Homo sapiens: one gene and its partner. The protein of the gene in region 2 purifies or fractionates together with the protein of the main gene of each other region. This does not show direct contact. Each region holds a gene or a part of one and is shown on either strand. Other genes may lie near its edges.

What was found.
Region 1: the proteins of INVS (region 2) and CHCHD6 purify together in Homo sapiens (affinity purification with mass spectrometry; one large-scale study listed by BioGRID and IntAct). This does not show direct contact.

Annotation. Positions count from the first base shown.
Region 1 is NC_000003.12:126,955,667-126,959,317, reverse strand, and holds part of CHCHD6 (MICOS complex subunit MIC25), read right to left. Parts: intron 1,903-3,651; coding exon 1,767-1,902; intron 1-1,766. UniProt on the Homo sapiens protein: Component of the MICOS complex, a large protein complex of the mitochondrial inner membrane that plays crucial roles in the maintenance of crista junctions, inner membrane architecture, and formation of contact sites to the outer membrane.
Region 2 is NC_000009.12:100,102,201-100,105,851, reverse strand, and holds part of INVS (inversin), read right to left. Parts: intron 1,355-3,651; 5' UTR 1,331-1,354; coding exon 1,225-1,330; intron 1-1,224. UniProt on the Homo sapiens protein: Required for normal renal development and establishment of left-right axis. Probably acts as a molecular switch between different Wnt signaling pathways.

The sequences.
Region 1 (3,651 bases), on a different chromosome or scaffold from region 2:
GCAGGCAGGCCTCTGGCACTGCCATTGCTCAGTCTCTGGTTTCTTTGCTAGTCATGTCAGGGGTAGGGGCCGGGAAGGAGGGAGCCAGACCTGGCAGTGTCCCAGAGCCTCTCTCAGGGAATACACTGGGGTTTAATGTGATCTGTCTTCCTTGGTAATCACATTTTTGCCTTGGTGCGAGGAAGATATATTGGTGAGGTGTGTTTGTTAAAGAAATACTCTTAGGGGTGGTGGGTAGGGGCTGAAAACTACCACAGAGGTGGGGCTGGATGGAGAGAGGATGGAGTCTAGGGCTGGCCACTGAGGCGTAGGCCCTGCCAGGAAGCCAAGAGGCTGCAGCAGATCCCTCGGTAAAGAGTTAGGTGTGTGATGAACAGAGACTCGGAGCTGCCCTTGATTGGGTGTGTGGAGGATCTGGAGGCTTCACTTTGCTGGTGAGTAGGGAGCTAAGTGTCTGGTCGGTGCGAAGGGCCCTGGTCTGGCCCAGCCTACCCAGTGCCCCAGCGCCTCCTGCCCACGTGGAAGCAGAGTGAGCAGCCTTCCATCCTCTGAGATGGAGGAGGAGGCCGCCTGTCCTACCCAGGGCTTCCCTCTCTTGGAAGGCTGACAGAGGCCTTGCGACCACTCATCCTGTGTGGAGCTACTTCTGGGCTGTGTTCTGGCCATGAAGGGACAGTCGGTGCTGGACGGGGCTGTGACCAGCAAAGAGTGGAACAATCAGCCTTGGCAGATGGGTGTGAGCAGGGCATGACCCAAGGAAGCTCTTGCAGGCCTGGGGCTGCAGGACCCCGCTCAGTTCAGTGGGACAGATCTCCCCTTGGACATGGCTGGAGAGCACAGAGCATCTGGCCTCAGCCTTTTCCATCCCAAGTACCTAAAGCAGCCTGTCTCCTACTCAGGCCAAAGAGGCTTTTACGTGGGAAAGGAGACCTCGTCCTGTTGTTTCTCCCATACATTTTCACAAACAGGCCGCACTCCTTGGGGAGCCCAAACTAGGTGTTCTGAGAGTGAATGATGCTCCCCAAGGTGGGAGCTGTCCTGTTGGGGTGGGGCAAGGGTGAGGTATGGCTGGGAACAGCCTGACTGCACCAGAGGACGCTACGGGACCTGGGAAGGGGGAGGACTTATCTAGGATAGAGAGCAGCAGTTGGGGGTGGGGGAGGAAGGCAGTAGGAGCTGGCTGGGAGCGCATCACAGGCATCCAGGACAACCGAGGCCCACTGGAGTGGGAGGTGACCAGAGAGCACATGAGGCTTGGGACCACTCACCAGGAAGGCCAAGCCAGCACACCCCTGTAGACCAGCTCAGGGCAGGGTGGCTGTGAGCAGCTTCTGATGGCCACATCTGCTCCCACTCCTCTTCCAGATGGCCTATCCTTGCTGGGACCCCCACTCTGCACTCGGGCCTCTGCCACCCTCCCACCCCTAAGTGCCGAGGGCTAAGAAGTCCCCGGCACCCACAAGGGGCCCGGCCCTTGAAGGTGGGGCCTGACTTTACCCAGCCTGCTCCCACCCAGCCTAATAGGGCAAACGCAACAGGGATCATCTCCCTGGGGCCAGATGTCCAAGGCGCTCCTGGAAGCAGCCAGGAGAGTGTGCAGGTGACTGAGGAAAGCGAAGAATCCCTCCCTTGGCAAATGCAGAGACCTCCAAGTGGAGCATCTGATTCTAACAGGAAAAGGCAGGCAGAGATCTCCAATGCTAGATAGAGGTACCTCGCCTACCTCCCAAGGCCCTTGGAAACCTGGGAGGCAGGCAAGGCCTTACCTTGTGGGCGGCGCTCACGCAGCGCTGGTATGCCTTGACCAGGTCCGAGCACAGCAGCACCTCATGCGGGCGATCTCGGTAGCAGTGGAGAATCTGGGCCTGCAACCCTGAGCAGACGGGCTCCACCCTGCGGGGCCTGCAGAAGACAAGAGCAGGCAGGCCTGGGGCTCAGGTGCCAGCAGGCAGGGGAGAGAAACAACTCACATTCACTCCACCTACCTCCCAGGCGCTAGGCTAAGTCCCTGACACCCAGCAGCATCCTTTTAACCCTCAAGGAGAAGCACTGTGCTTTCCCGTTCTAGAAATGAGAGGACGGTCGCAGGGTCAAGCCCTGTGGTGGGTGGCTTAGGCTCACAATATAGCAGACACTGAAACATGCTGTGGTATGGGGCTCCACACCGGGCTCCTTCACTGGGGCCTGTGTACACTCAGGAGACAGGAAAGCCCCACTGGAGGGCCCCCATGAGGATGGTGCAGCCCGCCTCCAGGACAACCCGCCCCGCTGTGCCCAGGATAGCCATCCCTTTATGCCTGAGACAGCCCGCCCCACTGTGCCCAGGATAGCCGTCAGCTGCTTTCCTGGGCTTTCCTGTGCCTGTGGTTTACCCGTGACTATAACCATGTGACTTATTTTTTTTCCTGATTTAAAACTAATATGCGTGCAATAAGGAAAATGAAATCTACAGAAATGTCTAAAGAAATGAAAAATGTTCTTTTTACTTCTTAGAGGTAACCATTATAATATTTTGGGGGTAATTTACTATTTTTTTCTTTCTTTTTCAAAGTAGTTTTAGAACCCACAAAAGTGAGTAAGTTCACTTTCTAAAGTTGTGGAAAAAAAGAGCAAATATAGATAAACTAAAGTCAGTCACTGGCCCAGCCTCCTGAGCGTAATTTTGGATTGGTTGGTCTCCTTCCAGATTTCTCTCTCTCTCTCTCTCTCTCTCTCTCGTGCGCACACTGACACACACAACAGCACATTCGTGCACTCCCTGCCAGCCAGGTGCTGTCCTCCGGCTGCTGGGCGTGCTCAGTGCTGCTCCTTACAGCTCTGGTAGCAGACACTATCGTTCATCATGCTGTTCACACAAATGAGGAAACTGAGGCTCAGAGAATTAAGGCCATGCAGCTGGACAGTGGAGGAGCGGGACATATTTATTTACATGGCTTTGGATGTACTGTTGCTGCTCATTTGTTTTCTTAAGTGGGTTTTAGGCCAGGACCCTTCCCAGCTGTAGACGGACCCACTGTAACACTTAACAGCCTTTCCAAATTGAACACCACTCACGGCTGAGGGCACCAAAAAGAGCTGTAAAAATGTAGAAAGCCATTCCTCAAGTTTCTTAGCAATAGAAAGGATCACTGTCACACATGCCACAGCTCCACTCCAGGTACGTGGAGAGAGAGATATGTAGGTCAGTTGCTCTCCCACCAGGGTCTCCAGAGCCGTTATCATCTAACGATAACTTGAACACAGTTCCTCAGCTAGAAACCACCAGCACCAGGATGCTCGACAGCTTGGGAACAGGACCCCATATTTAGCTGTCTTGCTCTGGAAGTCTGCGGGTGGACACTTCTGTACACTGCTGACTTAGCAGTGATGCCACCTGGGTCTGGTCTTCCCTTCTCGTCCATGTCATCCCCAGGCCACTGTATGCAGCGCAGTCCTCTCTGCAGCAGAGGTCAAAGGGAGCAGGGAGGAGCAGGTCTCTCTGCTGTCTCATCTGACTACGCGGGACAATGCTCCCCTCAAACCCCACTCCAGGTTTCTCCTCCACTCACTGTCTAGGACCAGGTCACATACCCATGCCTAACACCATCGCTAACATGAGCAGTGAGTGTCCCATGTTCAGCTAAGGCCAGCAAGACCCATCCCCAGGGCATG
Region 2 (3,651 bases):
AGGGAATTTTTCCAAGAGAAGGATTTTAATAACAGACATAGAATCAAGGCTGAGTAGTGAGGAAGGAAAAGACAGAAGGAAAACTGATGGTCAAAACTAGAGAAGCTAGTGGATTGGAGGTCTCAGTGAGCATGGAAAACTATTGTTTGTCATCAGTAAGTGAGCTGAAAGTAAGAGTTTTAGTTGAATGGTAGAATGTTTGAGTGATTTGGAGGTGGTGGAAAATGTCAAGTTCCAGTGAATGTAGATAGCTGAGGTAAAGTAAGGATAAGCAGAGGAAGAGAAATCTTCACAGAGTGTGAGATACAATAGTTTTGTCTTTAAAGATAAGTAGGAGTTTGTTTAGCACAGAAGAAGGTTAACAGAGTAGCAGATAGAAAAAAGGTGGGGAAACAGAACATATGGAGAAAGTGAGACAAAATTCATGGCTTATTGGGAAATAGAAGTAACCTCTAGCTTAGCCAGAGGTTACGGTACACCAGTAGAAGTTCCTGGAGAAACTGCAAATGTAGGGTAAAAACAAAGTCGGAAGGAACAGGTATGAAAGTTCAAGTAATTTGGACTTTATTTTGTAGCCCAAGTTGTCAATCATGATGTCATCAGACACTGGTGTGAATAAAGACTACAAATAATATATTTTTATTTTTTTCTCTTTGGGATTTGCAACTTGTGAATATCTGGATTTGTGATAGAAAGATGGATCTTTGCTCTGCTTTAGCAGGAAGCTAAGGTTCTAGAAAATTCTTAGCTATTCTTTGTTCTCTTTATTCTCTCCTCTAGAACTCCTGCATTGGACCTCTCTATATATCACTTATATATGCAAATCACAGGGGGAACATTGAATCAATTTTAAATCATTAAAAATTAAATCATTTGTAAACTTTAATACTTTGGGTATATATTAAATGTTAAAAGATTATCCACTGTTTCATTCGAGATCTGTTAACATAAAGATGAATTCATTCCCTTAGTACCTTAGAATATCTATCTAGACTTAGTGCTAAATACATAGAAATTTCTCAAGTACTTTTCACCTAATCCTAACCCATATTTTTAAGTTTTAGGACTTAATTCCTTTCTTGTTCATGTGTTGGAAGAAAATATAAATAATAACATATTTCCATTAAAATGTATGAGTACATTGCAAATTAAAACTAACATTAACAAACTTCCTCAGGACAAACAGTTGCTTTTAAAGTTTCTGTACTTAAGGGGACTGCTTACCTACGATGAGCCTCTGTAGAGCACCCTTATCTCCATTAACGGCAGCAGCATGGACTTGTGATGCTAATGATGAACCAGCAAACAGCAGGTTCTCTGACTTGTTCATAGTCTTCTTAGCAACCGGAGCAACCTGAAACAATGATTCAGACAATGAGCGCATGCAGCAAACATTTCTGAAACCTGTCTCATCAGTTCCAAGTGGGTATTTTATAAATATGGCTTACTAGAAATACTTGACTAGGATTAGAAAAATCTATAGTCCTGGCTGGGTGCAGTGGTACATATCTGTAATACTAGCAGTTTGGAAGGCCAACGCAGGAGGATTGCTTGAGGCCAGAAGTTTGAGAGCAGCCTGGGCAAGATAGTGAGGCTGTCTATCTTAGTGAGACCTGTCTCAAAAGAAAAAAAGCTATAGTCCTAGTCCTGGAATTGGCATTAGGTGGCAAATTAGGTGACTTTTGTACAAGTTGCTCATCTGCTCATCTGTAAAATGAGAGGGTAGGTGCTTCTAGGACTCTTCTTAGGGACTATCTGAGGAAAAAACAAAGACAATATTTAACATTAGGCACAGGGCTCAGGGTTACAGTGACACAAGCAATATGATGCCACATAATCTAAGTTAATACAAGTAATATGATGCCACATAATATTAAACATTAGAATTGATATTGCAAATAAAAGTGAGCCCGATCCACAAAAAGAGTATAACATAAACTCAATTGTGAAGTCAGAATTAGCTGGATTTAAGCACTAAATAAACTTAAAAAAATTAATTAGGGCTGGGCATGGTGACTCATGCCTGTAATCCCAGCACTTTGTGAGGCCAAGACAGGAGAATTTCTTGAGCCCAGGAGTTTGAGACCAGCCTGGGCAATATAGCGAGAGCTCATTTCTACAAATCCCATCCCCTCCCCTCCCTTCCCCTCGCCTCCCCTCCCCTCCCCTCGCCTCTCCTTTCCTCCCCTCCTCTCCCCCTGCTTTCCTCCCTTCTTGTCTTTTCGAGACAGGGTCTTGCTCTGTCACCCAGGCTAGAGTGCAGTGGTGCGATGTCAGCTCATTGCAGCCTCTGCCTCCAGGGCTCAAGCAAGTCTCCTGCCTCAGCCTCCTCAGTAGCTGGGATTATAGGCACCTGCCATCACGACCGGCTAAGTTTTGTATTTTTTAGTAGCGACGGGGTTTCACCATGTTGGCCAGGCTGGTCTCGAACTCCTGATCTCAAGTGATCTGCCCACCTTGGCATCCCAAAGTGCTGGGATTACAGGCATAAGCCACCATGCCCTGCCTACCAAAAGTTTTTAAAAATTAGCTGAGCATGGTGGCATGCACTGTAATCCTAGCTACTCGGGAGGCTGAGGTGGAAGTTTCACTTGAACCTGAGAAACAGGGTTTGCAGTGAGCTGAGATCACACCATTGCATGCCAGACTGGGCAACAGGTTGAGACCCTGACTCAGAAAAAAATAAAAAAATTAGTTAAGGCCGGGTGTGATGGCTCACGCCTGTAATCCCAGCACTTTGGGAGGGCAAGGCGGGCAGATCACCTGAGGTCAGGAGTTCGAGACCAGCGTGGCCAACATGGCGAAACTGTGTCTCTACTAAAAATACAAAAATTAGCTGGGCGTGGTGGCGCGTGCCCATAATCCCAACTATGCAGGAGGCTGAGGCAGGAGAATTGCTTGAACCTGGGAGGTGGAGGTTGCAGTGAGCTGAGATCGCACCACTGCACTCCAGCCTGGGCAACAGAGTAAGACTCCATCTGAAAAAAAAATTAGTTAAAAAACTATTTTTAAAGAGATGGGATCTTGCTATGTTACCTAGGCTGGAGGGCAGTGGCTATTCATAGGTGCAATCCCACTACGATCAGCATAGGAGTTTTGACGTGGACCAGTTCATTCCTTCTTAGGCAGCCTGGTGGTCTTCTACTCCTGGGAGATCACCATATTGATGCCAAACTTAAAGTGGACACCTGAATGGCATAGCGCACTACAGCCTGAAACTCCTGAGTTAAGCGATCCTCCCTCCTCAGCCACCTGAATAGCTGGGACTTCAGGCATGTGCCATCACACCTGGCTAAATACTAAATTAAAAGGTATCTAGGTCTTGCCGTCATTCTCACAAAAAGTGAAATTTTTATTTGTTCTCTCCTTGGTCCACCAGGAAAATATACCTAGATAGAGGTCTTAACCATAAGATCTTACTTGGAACATCGTATCACTAAAATGAACCATATTTCAATAAGGACAATTTTGTTCTGACCGGTAGTCTCATGGAGCTTGTAAGAACCTTTTAAAAACATATGACAGGAGTTTGAGAGACCAGCCTGACCAATATGGTGAAACCCCGTCCCTACTAAAAACACAAAAATTAGCTGGGCTGTGGTGGCACACACCTGTAATCCTAGCTACTCAGGAGGCTGAGGTGGGAGAATT